3 linked regions of the Homo sapiens genome follow. The protein of the gene in region 1 interacts with the protein of each later gene in a pairwise test. Each region holds a gene or a part of one and is shown in the gene's direction. Other genes may lie near its edges.

Region 1 (7,027 bases):
TGAGCTACCACGCCTGACCTGATTATTGTTCTTGTTGCATTATTTCTGACTGGTGGCTGTCTTTAAATCTCATGAAGGTCAGGCTTATCTACCCTTGTTAGCATTTAGAGCAAGTGAAATCAGGTCCTAGTGTGTTGGTACAGGTGTTGTCCACTGCTTTGCCCTTAAGGATGTACTCTGCTCACCATCTTCAAACTCAAGGCCAATTCTAATGACTAACATTAAGAAGAATGCCTTTGTATATTTCAAAACTGATGAGCTGTTCTGTTGTTCCTGCTCTGCTGGTTCTTTGTTTTTCTTGTGGTTTAAACCAGTCTCTGGTTCTTGACAAGGATGTCTAATAGGATGACTCACATGTGCTATCTGGTTGGACCCATTCTTTACCCTAGATGTGAACTAACAATCCCAGCAGGGAACCCTCTCTGGAATATTAAAGAGTAGGGTTTAGCTAATTATAATAATTTAGATGTACATTAAAACCCAGTAACTCCTATCAAGTGAGGAGATAATATTTTTACTAAAAGCGGAGGTTAGAAGATAGCCTGGGACCTTGGTCTGGTGCAACATTGCAGTCACCTGTGATCAAGCTCTTCTGAAGAATAAATACCTGTCTTTCCATGTTCCCGGGAATAAATTCTACTCTTGTAGTCTTCCTATTCTTGCTACTGTAACTAGCTTACATTTACTGAATACTTACTATTCGATGGCCACCAACCTGAGTGCTTTGCATGGTCTATCTTATTTAAAATTCTTAAAACCAAAAATAAGGAACAATTATTTTCTGGGGTCTTTACATGTAGTAGAAGCAGATGATATATAACTACAGTTAACTATAGTTTAGATGTTGTAGAGTTTTAAAAAATTATGTTCAAACTTTTTTTACTATAGCCCTTCTATATTGTTTGGAATAGAAAAATACAATTGTATCACCCCACAAAACTTGTTTCAGACACCCATGCACATATACATTAATACAATTTTGTGGCCGGTATTCAATGCTTATGATTTATTTTTCTGTTCCAAACAGTATAATTTTATTTTAAAAAAGACTAGACTGGTTCTTGACCATCTAAATGGATTTTGTTACCGAATAATAAGATTAATAAATAGCAGTGATGTTCTGATGTCATCTGGGGGACCAGAAAAATCCAGCTGGATATGCTTATGCTATGATTATACTTTATAAAATTTGTATATCCTTAATAGACTAGGACTAAAAGAAAATGTGGAAAAGCATATTAATCCAAATGTTTACCAAGCATCTGCCATGTGCTAAGCCTCATGCTAGGTTATGAAGACATAGAATTGAGCAATTGTAGGGACAGTAGAATTGAGCAATTGTAGGGACAGTAGAATTGAGCAATTGTAGGCACGGTTCACTCCTTTTCAAAAAGAAACAAAAAGATCATCTGCCTTAGTATATATACTTTGCATAATTTGTTAAACTGGCATTTTCACCTAGGGATGAAATTTTGAAGATCATATTTAAAAGGCAAGCCAGAACTAAGGCAAAAACAGTCACTTACCTACAGACAGATGAGACTTCTGTCAAGTTTTCCTTTGTCCTACCTGTTTTTGGGTTAGCAGGTCAGAAAGAGCTTAGAGCAAGATCCATTAACAAATTTGTGACAAAAATTTAACTAAATTGTTTAGGGTAGGGTATGTTTTAATAAAGAGTTCATTTTTCTCTTTGGGAGATAAGTCAGTAGTGAATAATAGTGGCTGTTTCTTAACATGAATCTTTGCTGCTTTCAACTAGGTGGCTGTCTCATTAGTTCTACTCATACCCCTGTTAGGCCTCTTCCTTCCCCTACCCCAGATCTTATTGTGGGCTATAATTAAAGGAATTTAGGGCCGGGCACAGTGGCTCAGGCCCATAATCCCAGCACTGTGGGAGGCCAAGGTGGGCAGATCACGAGGTCAGGAGTTCGAGACCAGCCTGAGCAACATGGTAAAACCCCATCTCTACTAAAAATACAAAAATTAGCCAGGCGTGGTAGTGTGTGCCTGTAATCCCAGCTACTCAGGAGACTGAGGCAGGAGAATCACTTGAACCTGGGAGGCGGAGGTTGAAGTGAACTGAGATTGTGTCACTGCACTCCAGCCTGGGCGACAGAGTGAGACTCCATCTCAAAACAAATAAAAATAAAAAGGAATTTAGGAGGTGGTCAAAATATAAGAGTTAGTCTTTGCCATTAAAAAACAAAGCAAAACACTCATTTCTAACCTCTTTCTGATACACTATTAGAAAATGTTCTCATATGAAATTTTTAGGCTGTGAAGGCATACTTCATAATTAAATGAAACTCATTTATCACATATCTTCATACATCTCTATGGTTATATTCTACATATGTTAATGCTATGAAGTTTGGAGTATAATATTAGGACTGGCCTTGAGAGTTGATAAAGGTTAAGTTTTACCTTTACTAATATGTCTCTCTTATGTTGATTAGCCTATTTTTAGAAAATAAAGCCTTCTGCCCAATTCCTTGTCGGCATCTGCTGGTATGCTGGGGTAGAGAAATGTGGGTTTCAGCCCTAGTTCTGTGTTAACTAATGTTATGTACCGGAGCAGGTCATGTAGTACATCTCAGCTTCCTTCTTATCTAAGATGATTGCACCCAATATTCTCCAAGGTACCATAGAGCTCTGTGCACCAAAGCTTTCTGTCTGGAAAGAAAACAGTCACAGTATGGACCTGTTACTAACTTATTCTTATGCATGCTGACAACAATAATAGAATAGATTTTATATGAAGAATAATACCATCTGTGCCCATGTTTTAGATTCTTTACCTTTCTGTTTCAGTTATAACTTAGGAAAGGGACTTTAGAGTCATTGTCAGTTATCCTTGGGAGATTTTTGGCTGGCATTTCTTGGCTGGCTTGGTTACAGTTGAACATTGTATTGTATCAGAAGGATCTTTGTACTTTGTTTGGAATCTTTATGATGTTTAAAGCATGATGCAGCTATGTGGAAGTACTGCTGATAGTTCTGGTTTTCCTTCATTGGGAAGAAGTTTCATAAGATGGAAAAATTAAAATGATTAACAATATGAAATAATTGTATATGAAGTTCTACTGAATATTTTCTATCTCTTGGTCAATGAAAAAGAAAATTGGGAAAGAATTGAAAACAGAATCTAATGTCAGTATAGCGTGATATCATGGATAAGGTAGATAGACTTGTTCCTTTTCAACAATTCTAGAATCCTGAACTAGGGAGTGTTTTCAGTCCACGTTACGTTATCCTCATGTTTATGAAAAGTTAATTTAAAGTACTTTTGAACCCGCTTTAAGTCCTTAACTTCACTTACATTTTTAGGATGGTTGATTCATAGGAGATAACTGTTGTTGGTATCTGAGGCTATTTTATAAGAATGTGATATTGATCTTTAGCCATTTTTGCAGTGTCAACCTAGACATACATGGAACCATTGGATTTTTCTGAGTGGCCAGTGATCTACATCATCTGCCAGAGTGTAACTTAAATAACAAATGCCCTTTTTTCTTTTTCTCAAGAAACACACAGTTCTGTACTCTATATATCTTTTATTATTCACATTTAGATATATTAAAAATAAAGCCCTCTTTCTACCATACACCTCTTAGATCCTACTGAATCTCAAAAGTTTACACAGAATAAGAGCATGATACGATCTATTTAGCACTAATCTTTAACGTGAAGGTTTTTGAAGGTGGTTCATTCTACCTTTATTTTATAAATCATGTTAGCTCTTTATAGTCTTAGGGTGATTTTACCAAATGAACTTAAATATATTCTTTCCCCCAACAGGGTTAATCATCTCATTTTAGTGGAGCCTTGGGGTTTCCCTGAACGACCAGACCTTGCTGATCAAGACAGACCAATTCCAGTTTGGATCAGAGCCTTGGGAGCAGCATTGACTCCCTTTAACCCTTTAGCTGGCCTAAGGATTGCAGGACCCTTTGGTGAGTGCTTATGTTCTAGGAAAGCAAAATGTTTGTAAGTTATGAGAAGAGCAGAATTCACTATTGTTAGTCAAAATCTTAAAAACAAACAAGAAAACCCTGAACCCTTACTTTTTCTCCTCTTCCTCTAATAAGTACCATGTCTTGCACAAAGACGAATGCAACTAGGTTCTTCTCCTCAAAGGAGAGTCTTTATATTGTAAACATTGTGAATAATTAGCAAAGCAGAAAAGGAGGGAATGCTGAGGATAAGGTTAGTCAGTCCTCAACACTCTAAAAAAAGCCAGGCAAGCAGAGTGTTTTGGGGAGTATATAAGGACCTCTGCTAGTCCAGGGCCTGGGAGAAGTGTAGCATGTTGCCCTGCTGGTGAGCACTGGAGAGCGTTTGGCCAATTGATGATACCATTTGGTACCATAAAACCTGATTTGATTGACCCTGGGGATAACAGGTACCACCACACTCACAGATTCTTCCCTTATCCATGTCAGAGTGTTGGAAAGATAAAGTTATTTTTTCCACAACATTTTGGGGACTCCTGATATATATTTCTGGTCATATTTTGAGGCACCAGTGTTTAGTCCCTGATTGACTTTTATTTGACTCTCAGCAGTTCTGTCTCAGCCCCATAGCCATGGGAATTTCCTTCCCTCATTGTCACAGATAATGATGTTCTGAACTTCTGCCTTTCCCCCGTACAACTTGTATGAATTTGGAGTACTTTTAGTTGTAAGTAACTGAATACCCAAGAGGCTTAAACTAGAAGGACTTTTATTATTTCCTTAATAAGCAATCTGGAGATAGGTTTTAGCACTTGTTCTGGTTGCTTGCTCATTGATGTTAGGGTTTGGGTCTGTGTCTGTGATTTTCTTGACTTTTTTCCTCACGGTGGTTTGATGCCTGCCATAGCATTAAGCATCATCTCACAAATCAGCGCCCTGAGCAAAAAGAAATAAAAGCACGAAAAATGGTCCTTCTCTCCATAATGCTTTGTCAGGGAAGAAAGTCCTCTCTGGAAGGCTCCACCTGACCTCTGCTTATGACTCGGCCCACTCCTAGTCCTTCCACCAGCAAAGAAGAAATTTCTGTGATGCACCAATCATGATTTGTTTCCAGGGCCTGCTTTCCTGGGCATGTTGCTGCCTAATTGATACTATAGAAAAGATGCGTTCTAACCAGGTGCTGTGGCTCACACCTGTAATACCAGCACTTTGGGAGGCTGAGGTAGGCAGATCACTTGAGGCCAGGCTTTGAGACAAGCCCGGCCAACATGACAAAACCCCATCTCTACTAAAAATACAAAAAAATTAGCCAGGCATAGTGGCACACACCTGTAATCCCAGCTACTCAGGAGAGGAGGCTGAGACATGAGAATTACTCAAACCTGGGAGGTGGAGGTTGTGGCGAGCCAAGATCGCACCACTATTCTCCAGCCTGGGCAACAGTGCAAGACCCTGTCTCAAAAAAAAAAAAAAAAAAAAGGAAAAGAAAAGAAAAAAGAAAAGATGGGTTCTGTTAGTGAGAAAAGAGAAGAGGCATGGGGGTGTGGAGGAGGTTGTGGGATTAACTGTCATGCAGGTGACTGTAAATGCTGTTCCCTTCTGCCCAACCCTGACCCCTCCTGCCCTAGTGCCTTCTGTTTGGATTGGGAGAGCAGTGGGACTGCAGGACTTAGAGGAGGATATGGGGGTTGAATTGGTGACCACACTTTATTGCTTCAGTGCTCACAGATGGCACATTTTGCCCACCTGCAGTCTTTCAGCCCTCCCCAGTAGAGCCACTCCTTACTATGCCTGGTCCTTCTCTGGTAAACTACTTAAGAGCTTCATTTAGTCTTTATAGTCCTGAAATATAAATAGATTTTACTAGAACACAGGTACAAAAATAACAATTATGGGAAAAGTAAAGTATGAAGAGAAATTAGGAGACAGTGATGGGCAAGGGAGGACACCTAGGAGAGGCTCTTTAATGCCATGCCCTCAGCCTGCCATTATTGCTTGCACTTGGGGGTGGGGAGGTGATGTAGAATCAATTGCATGACAGAATTTCTTGGTGGAGCTGTATAATTCATCAGAGATGGGAAGAGAGGGCCAGTAGAGAAGTAAAGCCTTGCTGGAGTCATGGGGTAGTGGTAGCAGAAAGGGAGACCAGTCAGTCTCTGGGGCCTCAGAATAGAAAAGTGTGACTAGAAGAAAGCTTCTGCTCTTCATCCTCTTTCCCTTGTGGGCCTTGCCCTGGGCTTTTTCTTTTCTTTTCTTTCTTTCTTTCTTTTTTTCTTTTTTTTTTTTTTTGAGACGGAGTCTCGCTCTGTCGCCCAGGTTAGAGTGCAGTGGCGCGATCTTGGCTCACTACAACCTCCACCTCCCAGGTTCAAGTGATTCTCCTGCCTCAGCCTCCTGAGTTGCTGGGATTACAGGTGCACGCCACCACGCCCGGCTAATTTTTGTATTTTTAGTAGAGACAGGGTTTCACCGTGTTGGTCAGGCTGGTCTCGAACTCCTGACCTTGTGATCCGCCCACCTCGGTCTCCCAAAGTGCTGGGATTACAGGCTTGAGCCATCACGCCTGGGTGTCCTCGGCTTTTTCTAGAGTGGGGCTGTGGGCGCCACCAGGGATAACCTTAGCAGGGAGTCTCGCTAGTGTCCCAAGAAGAAGCTGAATTTATTTTCACACAGAAATAATTATGTATACCAGTTTACTTCATTTAGAAGTTAATGTGTTATAATTATGGAAGAAATACAAGTTATTACATTAATTTTTACGTACGAGCTACTCGCCACGTTTAAAGAATTTATTTACCTACAAAAGTGCCTTCTAACTTACATGTTTTTGAGGCCCTAAAGTACATCTGCAAGTCAAAATACAATACTCTTTACTTCTTATATTAATATTTCCTTGGGGAACTTTAGGAGGACAGCTATCAGAATGTGTGCTTTTTCCCACCTACAATATATATTTGAATACATATATATATGTGTGCATATAACACTCATTACACAGACAAGCACTAAAACTTTCTATATTATTTAGTTGATAAGTTAACTATAATTTAAAACATGCATTTTTTAAATTTCCT
Region 2 (7,027 bases), on another chromosome or scaffold:
TGGCAATGCTGACCTGGGGTTAACACCTGAAGGCCCAGAACAGCACATGGCTTGTAGCAAATGTTGGCTCTTAACATTAAAAAAAAAAATTTTTTTTTTGAGACAGGTTCTCACTCTGTCACCCAGGGTGGGGTGCAGTAGTGTGATCATGGCTCAACTGCAGCCTTGAACTCCTGGGCTCAAGTGATCCTCCCATCTCAGCTTCCCAAGTAGCTGGGACCACAGGCATGCACCACCATGCCTGGCTATTTTTAATTTTTTGTAGAGACGAGTTTTCACCATGTTGCCCAGGCTGTTCTCAGACTCCTGGGCTCAACAGATCCTCCTGCCTCAGCCTCCTGAGTAGCTGGGACTAGGTGCATCCACCACGCCTGGCTAATTTTTGTACTTTTTGTCAAGACGGAGTCTCGCCATATTGCCCAGGCCGGTCTCCAACTCTTGGGCTCAAGCAATCCTCCTGCCTCAGCCCCACAAAGTGCTAGAATTATAGGAGTGTGCCACTGTGCCCTACCTCAGTTTCCCTTAATCACCGCTTTTTAAAGACCCTGTCTCTAAATACAGCCACATTCTTACCCCTGGGGATCAGGACTTCAACATAAGAATTTGGGGTTGAGGGGGCCATAATTCAACCTATAACAGCCTGGGATGAAAAAATGAGGCACAGACCAGGCGTGGTGGCTCACGCCTTACTCCCAGCACTTTGGGAGGCCGAAGCGTGCAGATCACTTGAGATCAGGAGTACGAGACCAGCCTGGCCAACATGGTGAAACCCTGTGTCTACTAAAAATTCAAAAATCAGCCAGGCGTGATGGTGAGTTCCTATAATCTCAGCTACTCGGGAGGCTGAGGCACGAGTATCACTTGAACCTGGGAGGCAAGAGGTTGCAGTGAGCCGAGATCGTGCCACCACGCTCCAGCCTGGGCAACAGAGCAAGGCTCTGTCTCAAAAAAAAAAAAAAAAACACCCTCCTTCAGATAAGTGTGAGGCTTAATCGGTTATTGTTTGTCTCCCCAGCTGGGACCAGGGCACAGGCTGCCTGCTTTGTGGCTGTGTCCAGTGCCCAGCAGGCAGCCTGGCACAGGGTAGATGCTTATTTTTTTAGTTTTTTGAGACAGAGTGTTGCTCTTGTTGCCCAGGCTGGAGTGCAATGGTGCGATCTCGGCTCACTGCAACCTCCGCCTCTCGGGCTCAAGCGATTCTCCTGCCTCAGCCTCCCGAGTAGCTGGGATTACAGGCATGCACCACCATGCCTGGGTAATTTTATCTTTTTAGTAGAGATGGGGTTTCTCCATGTTGGTCAGGCTGGTCTCGAACTCCCAACCTCAGGTGATCTGCCTGCCTCGGCCTCCCAAAGTGCTGGGATTACAGGTGTGAGCCACCGCGCCCTGCAGATAGATGCTTATTAAGTATTCAGGTGCTCCATGTCCGCTTCAGCCCAGTGGTTACAGAAGGGCCACCCTCGGGTACCACCTGCTTGTGTCTGGGTCTGTAGCATCAGAAATAGGTGATCCCTGGGTTGGAGGCAGGACAAGCCAGCCGCATCCCAGCATCCTTGGACTTTCCCTGAGACCACCTGCAGGGACAGGCAGCTTATTCATCCACTTGCTATTGAGTGCCTACTGTATGCCGGGGAGCTGTGCTGTCCCATCATGGTTAGACTTCCTCACCTCCCATTTATGCAGAAATGGCCTTAGCTGGGAAACAGCAGAGCGGTTGTCAACTTGCATTTTTTTTTTTTTTTTGAGACAAGGTCTTGCTCTGTAGCCCAAGCTAGAGTGCAGTGGCGTGATCTTGGCTCACTACAGCCTTGACCTCCTAGACTTAGGCAATCCTCCCAGCTCTCAGCCTCCTGAGAAGCTGGGACTACAGGTGTGCACCACCACACCTGACTAATTTTTTAATTTTTTGTAGGAATGGGGTCTTGCTATATTGCCCAGGCTGGTCTCAAACTCCCAGGCTAGCCAGGCACGGTGGCTCACGCCTGTAATCCCAGCACTTTGGGAGGCCGAGGCGGGCGGATCACGAGATCAGAACAACAGAGCGAGACTCCATCTCAGAAACAAAACAAAAAACAAACTCCTGGGCTCAAGCAATCCTCCTGCCTGCCTTGGCTTCCCAAAGTGCTGGGATTATAGTTGTGAGCCACTATGCCCAGCCATGCCTACACCTTATCAGCAAAGGCCAATAGTGGGCTTGGCTGAGGGGGGATGGAAACTGCTGAGCTTACAGGAAGATGGGAAACGTCAACCAGGAGCCCCCGTCTCAGGGCCAAGCCCTTGCTTCCCTTTCTCTCCCACTGATAGCGTAGGAGGCCAACAGTCTTTCTGTTTATAGAAGGGATAAGCTCAGGGTGAATTCTTCAAGGTCACTGAACAGAGCAGCAGCTGGGAGCTTTTTTTTTTTTTTTTTTTTTTTTTCAGATGGAGTCTCGTTCTGTTGCCCAGGCTGGAATGCAGTGGCGTGATCTCAGCCCACTGCAACCTCTGCCTCCTGGGTTCAAGTGATCCTCCTGCCTCAGCCTCCCAAGTAGCTGGGATTATAGGCGCCCATCACTACGCCCAGCAAATTTTTGTATTTTTAGTAGAGATGGGGTTTCACCATGTTGGCCAGGCTGGTCTCGAACTCCTGACCTCAGGTGATCCAGCTGCCTTGGCCTCCCAAAGTGCTGGGATTATAGGCGTGAGTCACCGTGCCCGGCCAATTTTTGTATTTTTTGTAGAGGTGAGGTCTTACTATGTTGCCCAGGCTGTTCTCACACTTCTGGGCCCAAGCGATCCTCCCACCTCAGCCTCCCAAAGTGCCGGGATGACAGGTGTGAGCCACCGTGCCTGGCCTGCTGTGAGCTCTTGACTTTTTGAGAGGTGCAATGCTCTCTCAATTCTGGGCCCTATGAGTTTTTTCCCCCTTTGTGAAGAGGTAACTTTCCCCAGGTTCTGGGGGACGGTGGTGTTGTCAGAGCTAGATTTTAATCCGGGCCAGTGTGAGAACGTGCGTGTTCACTGAGTAGTGGGGCTGTTAGAACCTGACTCTCATCGGGGGCGTTGGCTCATGCTGGCTCACACAGTGAAACCCCGTCTCTACTAAAAATACAAAAAATTAGCCGGCCGTGGCAGTGCACGCCTGTAGTCCCAGCTGCTGGGGAGGCTGAGGCAGGAGAACCGCTTGAACCTGGGAGGTGGAGGTTGCGGTGAGCCGAGATAGTGCCACTGCACTCCAGCCTGGGTGACAAGAGCAAAAACTCTGTAAAAAAAAACAAAAACAAAAACAAAAAACTTGACTCTCACACCCTCTTCCCCCACAAAAAGATGAACTCTCATGAGTACAAGAGGACTGAGTCTTCAGGGAAGCACCAACTTGGGTAGGAATGGGGCAGGTGTGGTTTTCAACTTTGCGGAGAGCCCTCTGCATAGAGATCTGTCTAAAGACTTAGCTTCAGCTGGACACAGTGGCTCATGTCGGTCATCCCAGCACTTTGGGAGGCCAAAGCAGGAGGACTGCTTGAGGCCAGGAGTTCGAAACCAGCCTGGGCAACATGGAGAGTCCTTGTCTCTACAAAAAATAAAAAAATAAGCCGGGTGTGGTGGTGCGTACCTGTAGTCTCAGCTACTTGGGAGGCTGAGGTGGGAGGATCGCTGGAGCCGAAGAGGTCAAGGCTTGAGTAAGCTATGATTGCACCACTGCACTCCAGCCTGAGTGACACAGTGAGACCCTGTCTCAAAAGAAAAAAAAAAAAAAGACTTAGATTCGAGAACAGCAGGTATTGACAGATGAGCGCTCACCATGTGCTGGGTGGGGCGTAGTCAAAGGATTCCATGCAAAGCTTTTTTTTGTTTGTTTGTTTTTGTTTTTTTTTGGAGACAGAGTCTCTCTCTGTCACCCAGGGTGGAGTGCAGTGGTGCAGTCTCGGCTCACTGCAAACTCCACCTCCCGGGTTCAAGGGATTCTCCCGCCTCAGCCTCTTGAGTAGTAAGGATTACAGACATGCACCACTGCACCCGGCTAATTTTTTGTATTTTTTGTCTCTACAAAAAATAAAAAATAAGGCTGGGCGCAGTGGCTCATGCTTGTAATCCCAGCACTTTGGGAGGCCCAGGCAAGTGGATCCCCTGATGTCAGGAGTTCAAGACCAGCCTGGCCAACATGGTGAAACCCGTCTCTACTAAAAATACAAAAATCGGCTCGGCATGGTGGCATGTGCTTGTAATCCCAGCTACTTGGGAGGCTGAGGCAGGAGAATCACCTGAACCCACGTGGCAGAGGTTGCAGTGAATCGAGATTGCACCATTGCACTCTAGCCTGGGCAACAAGAGTGAAACTCCGCCTCAAAAAAATTAATAAATAAATAAAAATAAAAGATAAAAAATAGCCACGAGTGGTGGTACGTGCCTGTGGTCACAGCTACTCGCTGGGGAAGCTGAGGTGGGAGGCTCACTTGAGCCCAGGAGGTGGAGTTTGTAGTGAGCCGAGATTGTGCCACCGCACTCCACCTGGGTGACAGAGGGAGACTCCATCTCAAAAGAAAAAAAATTAAATTGAAAAAAAAAAACAAAAAACAGGCAGAGTGCAGTGGCTCATGCCTGTAATCCTAGCACTTTGGGAGGCTGAGGTGGGCGGATCACTAGGTCAGGAGTTTGAGACCAGCCTGACCAACATGGTGAAACCCCATCTCTACTAAAAATACAAAATTAGCCTGGCGTGGTGGCGCATGCCTGTAATCCCAGCTACTCGGGAGGCTGAGGCAGGAGAATCGCTTGAACCCAGGAGGCGGAGGTTACAGTGAGCCGAGATCACACAATTGCACTCCAGCCTGGGCAACGAGAGTGAAACTCCATCTCAACAACAGCAACAACAAAAAACAATTAGCCAGGCATGGTGGCGGGCACCTGTAATCCCAGCTGCTTCGGAGGCTGAGGCAGGAGAACTGCTTGAACCCGGGAGACAGAGGTTGCAGTGATCTGAGATGGTGTCACTGCACTCCAGCCTGGGCAAGAGAGCAAGACCCTGTCTCCAAAAAAAAAAAAGAAAGAAAGAAATGAGGTACAGGGAGGTAGAGTGACTTTCCTGAAGCCACACAGCTGAGAAGTAGCTAGCTAGGAACGGAGCCTAGGTAGTCTGGCTGCAGAGTATGAGGTCATGCCCACAACTCCAGACTCAGGGTCACCTGGGGGATGGCGCTCCCTGCCTCAGTCTCCCTGGAAGTTGGGGTGCAGGGGAGGGGTGCCCACATACAGAGGGAAGACGGAGATGCTGGGGTCACCCGGGGGATGGCGCTCCCCGCCTCGGTCTCCCTGGAAGTTGGGGTGCAGGGGAGGGGTGCCCAGATATGGAGGGAAGGCAGAGATGCTGATGCTGTTGCATCTCCTAGGTCCTGGCGGACACCAAGGAGCTTGTGTCGTCTAAGGTGTCGGGGGCCCAAGAGATGGTGTCTAGCGCCAAGGACACGGTGGCCACCCAATTGTCGGAGGCGGTGGACGCGACCCGCGGTGCTGTGCAGAGCGGCGTGGACAAGACAAAGTCCGTAGTGACCGGCGGCGTCCAATCGGTCATGGGCTCCCGCTTGGGCCAGATGGTGTTGAGTGGGGTCGACACGGTGCTGGGGAAGTCGGAGGAGTGGGCGGACAACCACCTGCCCCTTACGGATGCCGAACTGGGTAAGTGTGGCCAGCGGGCTGCTCTGGGACCCCTCCCCAGGCCCCCTGACCGGAAGCCGCTGTCGGCCTCCTGGGGTCTGTGCCGACACTCACTGCCGCCTCGTCCCTGCCACTTCTCCCGGGCATCTTGGAATCTCATCACTAACGCAGTCCCCTCTGTCCTGCTCACCAGCTCCCGCCCTCATCCACCACAGTCTCCTCCCCACAGCAGCCACCAGAGGGCGCCTGTGACCACCTGAGTCAGAACCCGTCCCTCTGCCCACAGCCCTCCATGGACCCCACCTCCCCTGGGGTCAAAGCCCAAGTCCTCGTCACAGCCCACAAGGTCCTGCACAACCTCCCCTGTCCTCTCCCCGCCCTCCTCCTCTTCCCCCTTCGCCACTCCGCTCCTGCATAAATACGTGACTAAACTTGAGATCTCACTGAACTGTGACAACAATGCTGGTGTTCCCGCCAGGCCAGACATCCCACTCCAGTCATCTCGGTCACATATTCGCACTCCCTGCACTGTTTATTTGATATTCTTCTTTAATTAATTTATTTATTTATTTAGAGACAGAGTCTCGCCCTGTCACCTAGGCTGGAGTGCAATGGCGTGATCTCAGCTCACTGCAACCTCTGCCTCCTGGGTTCAAGCGAGTCTCCTGCCTCATCCTCCTGAGTAGCTGGGATTACAGGCACCTGCCACCACACAGCTAATTTTTTGTATTTTTAGTAGAAACGGGGTTTCACTATGTTGGCCAGGCTGGTCTCGAACTCCTGACCTTGTGATCTGCCCACCTCGGCCTCCCCAAGTACTGGGATTACAGGTGTGAGCCACCATGCCCGGCCCTTTTTTATTTATTTGTTTTAGAGATAGAGTCTCACTCTCTTGCCCAGGCTGAAGTGCAGTGGTGCGATCATAGCTCAATGCAGCCTCCAACTCCTGGGTTGAGGCGAGCCTCCCATCTCAGCCTCCGAGTAGCTGGGACTACAAGCACACACCATCACGCCCAACTAATTTTTCTTTATTTAATTTTTGGTAAAGACGGGGTCTCCCTCTGTCATCCCAGCTGATCCAGAACTCCTTGGCTGGAGTGATCCTACTGCTTTAGCCCCCCAAAGTGCGGGGATTGGGATTTTTGCAAATAAGTAGCTTAGGATATAGGCAGGGCGCGGTGGCTCAGCCTGTAATCCCAGCACTTTGGTGGGCCGAGGTGGGCAGATCACCTGAAGTCAAGAGTTTGAGACAAGCCTGGCCAACATGGTGAAACCCGGTCTCTACTAAAAATACAAAAATTAGGCCGGGCACGGTGGGTCACGCCTGTAATCCCAGCACTTTGGGAGGCCAAGGCCGGGCGGATCACAGGTTCAGGAGATCGAGACCATCCTGGCT
Region 3 (7,027 bases), on another chromosome or scaffold:
AACTCTCCTTTCATTGCCAAACATTTTGCTCCAAATCAGGCTTGTTTTAACTGAATTAAGAGGATGACTTAATAAGAAGCTTCTGTGCACAGCAGAGGGTCATGGTAATCGTTCTATAGGGAACAACACAATACGGTCACAAGTCTGCAAAACGTGCCAGAAATGATAGTCATGCCTCATCCAGGCAAGTAAATGCATCCTTCCTGGAAGCAGTCAAGGAGTTGTTTTCTCCGAGTATTGTTATCAACAGTTTGGGGTTGGACTTTACCCTCCTGCGGCCACTTACGTTGTAAAGACGATGAAGCAAATTATTCAAAGCAAATCTATATTTCTTTTTCCTTCCAGAGGGAAAATGATTCCATCTGATCTTGAAAGAAGGATTCTTGAAGCCAAACAGAAAGTAAGTTTCTGCCGGGAGCTTTATCCAGCCCATATTTCTATTTCCATCCACCGGAGAACAAAATGTGTTTTGGTTTTATTTTAAAAAGAGGATCCAAGCCTCAATCTCCCAGGTTTAATGAGAACATAGAATTCTGCATCCAGTCACTATTTATTTCTCTGGGTTATAGGCTCTGCTTTAGAAAAGTTTAAATTGCTGAATAAATATTATATACAGAGATACAGTGAGCGTTTCCAAAGCATTTGTCTTCCTAGGTACTGAGGGTTGGCATGAAACACCCACACATTTGAAAGAATATTTTCAGAGGCGGGGAAATAGCAGAATGCTAATGCAGTATGTGAGAGACCCTGGTGCAGTTCTTCAAAAGGGGCCAGTTTTTCCCGTGTAGGTGCATGCTGTTAGCATTGGCTCTCCAGACGTCTTATTTTGCAGGAAGCAATTTAGAACTCTTTTCAGAAGTAACAAGTTCTGAATGCCTGCCCAAGATTCCCAAAGCTCTAGAAAGTCATTTACAACCTGGGATGGCTCACAAATCAGAGAATTTGTTTCTAGAATTCTTTGTTTACCATTTGGTAGATATAACCTACAGTTTCTGATTTAATAACATACACATGCATTTTATCATTAGGAACTCAGAAATAATGATTTACGTTCATATGCCCTTTTTCGTTTGGTTTTGTTTTACTAAGTGGCAGGCAGCAGGAGAAGGTTTCCCTCCTTGTGCAAGTACTAGAACTACTTCTAGTAACATCAACTAGAAGATTAAACCTTTGCTGCCACCTAAAGACTGACACCATAACATCACGTTCTATAGACAGGACAGAGTCCTTATGGAATGAGGGACTATGGCGATCCTGTTTGTGGCATTCTCCTGCCTTCTTCCAGCCCGTTACTTCAATCAGTTTTCATTTAGCCATGGCCAGAGAGACTGAGGACTAGTTAGACGGATAAAAGTCATGGCGTATTATTTTAGCCGCTCCGTGCTGAAACGTGAAATAAATTATCTGGGCATTTTCCAAATAGGAATAATGGGCTGGTCAGAGCTACTTCTCTTCATTCTCCTGCCTACTCACTCTAGGGGATTTATGAAGTTCAGAGGCCTCGTTGTGAATAAGGAACACTTGAAAGTGAGCAAAGGGGGTTAAAAGGGCCAGAAAGTCTACCGGGAATATATACATGTCTCGGGGACGTCCCTGACAGCCTCTGGGTTCACTACAGCCTCTTCTGAGAATCAGAATGTCTGTTCTTTTAAGACACAGTCAGGTCCAACAGCATAGCCTAGAGAACTCAGATTCCAGAGAGTGAACATCAATTTGTCCCAGACCCCGGGGTGTCAGTAACTCTGCTGCTGCTTCCTCAAATTCAGACGTGTCTGTTAGGGAGAGAATTTCCATTGCTTTGAATCAGCTTTTTAAAAGAACCCTTGACTCTGTTTTCCATGATTTGGGGCTTTCTCGTTCGCACAGGGGTTTGTTCCTTTCCTCGTGAGTGCCACAGCTGGAACCACCGTGTACGGAGCATTTGACCCCCTCTTAGCTGTCGCTGACATTTGCAAAAAGTATAAGATCTGGATGCATGTGGATGTAAGTATCCCTTAGGGACTGGCCACTAAAACGTCCTTGCACGTTTTTCATGTGGGACACACAAAGGAAATTTGTTTTCTCTTTTTTTAACTTGGTCAGCTTATTTTCAGAGTGGTGATATTAAAGCTTTTAAAGCTGGATGAAGCAAATTAGCACACAACTCACACAGTACACACCGTGCACCAGAAGCATCCCAAGGCTGATTATACCTTAATGTCCCCAACATGGTAATATTTGTATTTCTATGATCAGTACCCAAGCTGACCACTTTGTTCTCAATTCATCGAGCCATTGCATCCATGGAGGAATACAACCTACGCACACAGTCCTGCTGTTCCTCACTTACCAGAATGGTCAGAAGAGTAAAGAGGAGTTGCATTTATGTAGGAAACCCAGAGAATTAAAAACAAACAAAAGCAAAAAACTGAAGCTCAAGTTAGATATTCCTGTATTTAGAGAGGAAAATAGGCTTGACAACTTCCTGGGAAATAAGGACCACCAAAGTTCCAATTTCGTAGCTTGGTCAGCTAAGAAGATAGATTATATTTGAAACGTTTTGACTTCAGGCCTTGTCACACTAAAAAATAATGAAGGTGTTCCCTCCAGAACATTTTCCAATGAAAAAAAATGTGTTAAGTTTTAGAAGGACCGAAGGGATTTAAGTTTAGATTAGTATTACTCAAAGTGTGGTTTGACGATTAGCTACCACCTGCAAACTGTTAATGATCCATATGAGATAAAGAGTTTGTGCCAAACCATCATCAGTCACAAACCATCGCTAATCACAAACCATCACAAACTAAGCGCAATGCTTGGCTCAGCTGATAATTTTTTCATTGCAAGACTTTCTCAGTGAAGGAACGCATAAGTTGATGTTCATTCGAGTGCAAGATCCTTATGTTGTCATGGGCCAGCACTGGGTCTAAGCCAGGGCTATAACAATGATCTAGCCCTGGCTTAGATCATTTTGGCTTTATAATAATTATTCAGACCAAATTAATGCTCTTTTTTTTTTCTTTTTGAGACAGAGTCTTGCTCTGTCGCCCAGGCAGGAGTGCAGTGGCGTGATCTTAGCTCACCGCAACCTCCGCCTCCAGGGTTCAAGCAATTCTCCTGCCTCAGCTTCCTGAGTAGCTGGGATTACAGACGTGCGCACCCATGCCCAGCTAATTTTTGCAATTTTAGTAGAGATGGGATTTCTCCATATTGGCCAGGCTGCTCTCGAACTCCTGACCTCAGGTGATCCACCTGCCTTGGCCTCCCAAAATGCTGGGATTACAGGCAGGAGCCACCACACCTGGCCTCATTAATGTTCTTTTCTTTAGGGGCAGAAAATTTCCACAGGCTTAGCTGGGTGCATTTCCATTATTCCAGAGTATTCCTGCAGAGCAATCACCAATGTTCTTTATCCTCCCTGATTCACAGTGTGAGTCGTTCATTAGGCTACCAGAGCCCCTTTCATTTTACACATGAAGACACTGAGAAAAGACTGAACTATCCGATATCATTAGTGACCTGGGCCTCAGGACTGGAAATCCTGGTAGACCTTGCTGGCTGATTCAGGAAGAGGATTACCCGGCAACTTCAAAAATGAGAATGTCTGTGTGTCCTGAGCCAGCAGAAGCTATGGGTTGTTCCTCTGGGCCTCCTACTTAAATTAGAACTAGGGAATCTTTTAACCAGTTTTATTAGCTTTTCTTTGAAACATACCAAGTTTACCACTTACTCTTATTAGCTTTAACATTCATACATTCTATAAAGTAGAAAGAATCTTAAAATAGTACACGTTTGGAAAATCATAATTTTTCAAAGTGCAAAAGAACTGGGCCAGGTGCAGTGTCTCACGCCTGTAATCCCAGCACTTTGGGAGGCTGAGGCAGGTGGATTACCTGAAGTCAGAAGTTCGAGACCAGCCTGGCCAGCATGGTGAAACCTCGTCTCTACTAAAAATACAAAAATTAGCCAGGCATGGTGGTGGGTGCCTGTAATCCCAGCTACTTGGGAGGCTGAGGCAGGAGAATTGCTTGAACCCAGGAGGCAGAGGTTGCAGTGAGCCAAGATCTCACCATTGCACTCCAGCCTGGGCAACAAGAGCAAAACTCTGTCTCAGAAACAAAACAAAACAAAAAGAGGGCTGAACTTACAACAAAAGGTGGGGGGAAGTGATTATATCATAAAAGAATTTTATAATCCATTTAAAATTATCCTAGAATTATTTGTACACACAGAGGAAAGAAAGTTAATATTTCCAAATGAATCTCCATCTTGGCATTCTATTTTTAAAGGAGATTACTACACCAATTCAAATCTTCAACCTTGATCAAGTACAAATTGTTAAGACGTGTTCTAACTGCTCAGCTAATTAACTGGTATGAATCTTCCCTGCTTGTGAATTTTGGACACAGAAATTATCCAAAATCACACATCAGTGAAATAGAGTTATGAAGCCACTTCTTATTTCTGGAATCATTTAGACTTGTCAAAAGAGTTTTCCCTGCAACTTGGAAGCTGTTTAATGGCCCTCCTGCCCATCTTCTCTGCCTTACACTGTGGGGACCACAGGGTTTCGTATTCTGAGAACATGACTTCATGAGGACTAATGGTGCTGGTGATAGGTTTGGGAGAGGGTCTTTCTCTCTCTTCTACGGACCAGGAGCTATGCCTCCAAGGTGGCTCCTTACACCCATATAAATGTGGGATGGAATCTGAGACCTTAGAAGGGCCCTTCGGTGTAAACTCTGAAGGTTAGTGCCAGAAGGAGGTGGTCAACTTCCTAAGTGGCCTGGGGTCAAGATCATTTTCACCTAGAAAGACACCAGACTATAGAAATCTAGGCAATGACAAACTGCTACCATTTTCCTCATATGATTTTTTTTCAGGCAGCTTGGGGTGGGGGATTACTGATGTCCCGAAAACACAAGTGGAAACTGAGTGGCGTGGAGAGGTATGTTGCATTTTTCTTATTAACAACATAAAGTGTTAAAAGCTAACTGTGAAACACAAATTACAGTCAATTTCCAGGAACTTTTGGAATACTGAGTGAACTCACTCTATTCAGTGCTTGTGTTCCTTGCCTTATGTGGTATTACACTCATGAATGTGGGTAAACAACAGAAAAATCAAATATGTAAATATTATGTGTAAACAACAGAAAAATCAGAATACACATCAAGCGACCCAGGTAGAATCTCTTTCAGACATAGAGATTCCTGTCTAGGGTCTATTCCTGGGATCTCTGAACCAACCACAAAAATTGTTTAAAACCTACAGGCAGCCCACGTTTTACTAGGGAGAAGATTTATAGCTTTCATGTTTCATAAAAGGATAATATCCACTGCTTAAAAAAAATAATAATTTTTCAAAGCAAATAAGCACCTTGTAACTTATCAATGTTGAAAGTTTGGGTTTGGGGTCTAAGATGGCCAGTTCACTTAAAGTGAAACATACTAGCAATAGCCTCATCTCATGTTTCATTCCCGTAATAACCTTTCTCTGACACAGCTCCGACTGATGCTGCAAAGCACCTTTTATTTAGAGCCTACGCAGAAGACTGTTGAGAAAAGCTGAAAAACACAAAGGCAGTGATATCTGATTGGCATAAAGCACATTCAGGTCCAAAGAAAAGAGAACAACAGAATGCAAAATACAGGCTCTGGTTCTGAACCACATGCAAGGGGAGCCCAGTTCTCTCATCACAACATGGCAGGTCAGACACAGTGGTGAGCTCTGGCACTCCAAGTGACCAAGAAAGCCTGAATTCATCAGAGGCTGCCAAATGCCCACCATCCCCTGCCAAGTCGCCAGATGCTGCCCAGCAAAAGCGTCACACTGGCTCTGCCACTAGATATCTTGGCACAGTTTCTGTTCCAGGACAAGGAGAGACGCTGATGGAGCACAGAGGCACTTGTGAGCCCTGGGCATGTGGGAGGCCCAGGCCAGAGTGGCTGTGCAGAGGGTGCGATCTGACACCCAGGCCCAAAATACACAGAGAACCCGTGAGTGTGGAAAGAGAGGGGTATGGTTACTGGGCTGGAGTCAAGAGCATCCCACCAAATTAATGGAAAGAAGGCAAAAAAGAGTTGGGATACACCAGCTAAGGCCCATGTCAGAAGGGTCACTGTCCCTGAGTCTGATGGCTGGGGTCAGAGCCTGGCCTGAGCACAGCGGTGTTAAGGCACCTGGAGCCACCCAAGCTCTGATTGCAGGGCCCCATTTAGATGCCAGTGGATGAGGGCAGGTGTGTCTCCCTCCCAGGGTCAGCCAGTGCCAGGCCTCTGCTCTTGGACCCTTGGGGCTTCTCTCAGGCCTAATCCCTTTCCATCTTGAAGATCTGCAAGAAAGCAGAAGCTTAAGGAAGAGGCAATGAAGTAAACAGGGAGAGACAATAAAAGAGAGAGAGAGAACAACTTGGAAGGTGCCTGCTCACATGATCAGAACAATAATTAAATTCATGTGCTTTCAAGAGAGGTGGCCTATGTACAGTACTTTCTCTTCTGTGAGTTTCTGACTGGCACAAAAAGTCTGTTACTTTACCTTTGATGCCACTTGCAACTGTAAGTGCTGAAAGTCCTGGCACATCCTCCACTTAAAAACTCACTAAATTACCTACCCTGAGCCTTAGAAAAATAAACACCCACACGATTCTGTACCAAAGACTATTATTTGAGAGCAAAGCTTAGAACGTTCATCAGGGAACACAGAGTTTCCTCTTATTGCCGCAATTCTTGAAACTGTACTGTAACTAAACTTTTCAAATGGAATAACCATATATGAAGTCCTAAAAATGAGGGGGCTGCTGGTGTTCCACTCTGAGCAGAATCCCCTTTAGCCACCCATTTAACTGAGGATACCCCTCTCTCACTGACTTATTAGCAAAAGGCATACTTTCTAAGTGAATACAGTTGGAAGACCAGTGGAAACCACATAATGTGTATGGCCACAAGTTTAGGAAAGAAATGTGTCTCACTTAGGGAATGACATTTTTCCAAGCTCCGCAAACCAAAGTTTAGAACTCACCCTAAAAGTAGAAGAAATCCGTAGTCAA

Evidence for each region. The genes of interacting proteins can lie anywhere in the genome.
Region 2: the proteins of ABHD5 (region 1) and PLIN3 interact in binary tests that used the Homo sapiens proteins (3 or more experiments, as listed by UniProt).
Region 3: the proteins of ABHD5 (region 1) and GAD2 interact in binary tests that used the Homo sapiens proteins (3 or more experiments, as listed by UniProt).

The regions. Positions count from the first base shown.
Region 1 is NC_000003.12:43,707,911-43,714,937, forward strand, and holds part of ABHD5 (1-acylglycerol-3-phosphate O-acyltransferase ABHD5), read left to right. Parts: intron 1-3,798; coding exon 3,799-3,953; intron 3,954-7,027. UniProt on the Homo sapiens protein: Coenzyme A-dependent lysophosphatidic acid acyltransferase that catalyzes the transfer of an acyl group on a lysophosphatidic acid.
Region 2 is NC_000019.10:4,850,641-4,857,667, reverse strand, and holds part of PLIN3 (perilipin-3), read left to right. Parts: intron 1-5,366; coding exon 5,367-5,652; intron 5,653-7,027. UniProt on the Homo sapiens protein: Structural component of lipid droplets, which is required for the formation and maintenance of lipid storage droplets. Required for the transport of mannose 6-phosphate receptors (MPR) from endosomes to the trans-Golgi network.
Region 3 is NC_000010.11:26,268,774-26,275,800, forward strand, and holds part of GAD2 (glutamate decarboxylase 2), read left to right. Parts: intron 1-345; coding exon 346-400; intron 401-1,866; coding exon 1,867-1,983; intron 1,984-4,862; coding exon 4,863-4,927; intron 4,928-7,027. UniProt on the Homo sapiens protein: Catalyzes the production of GABA.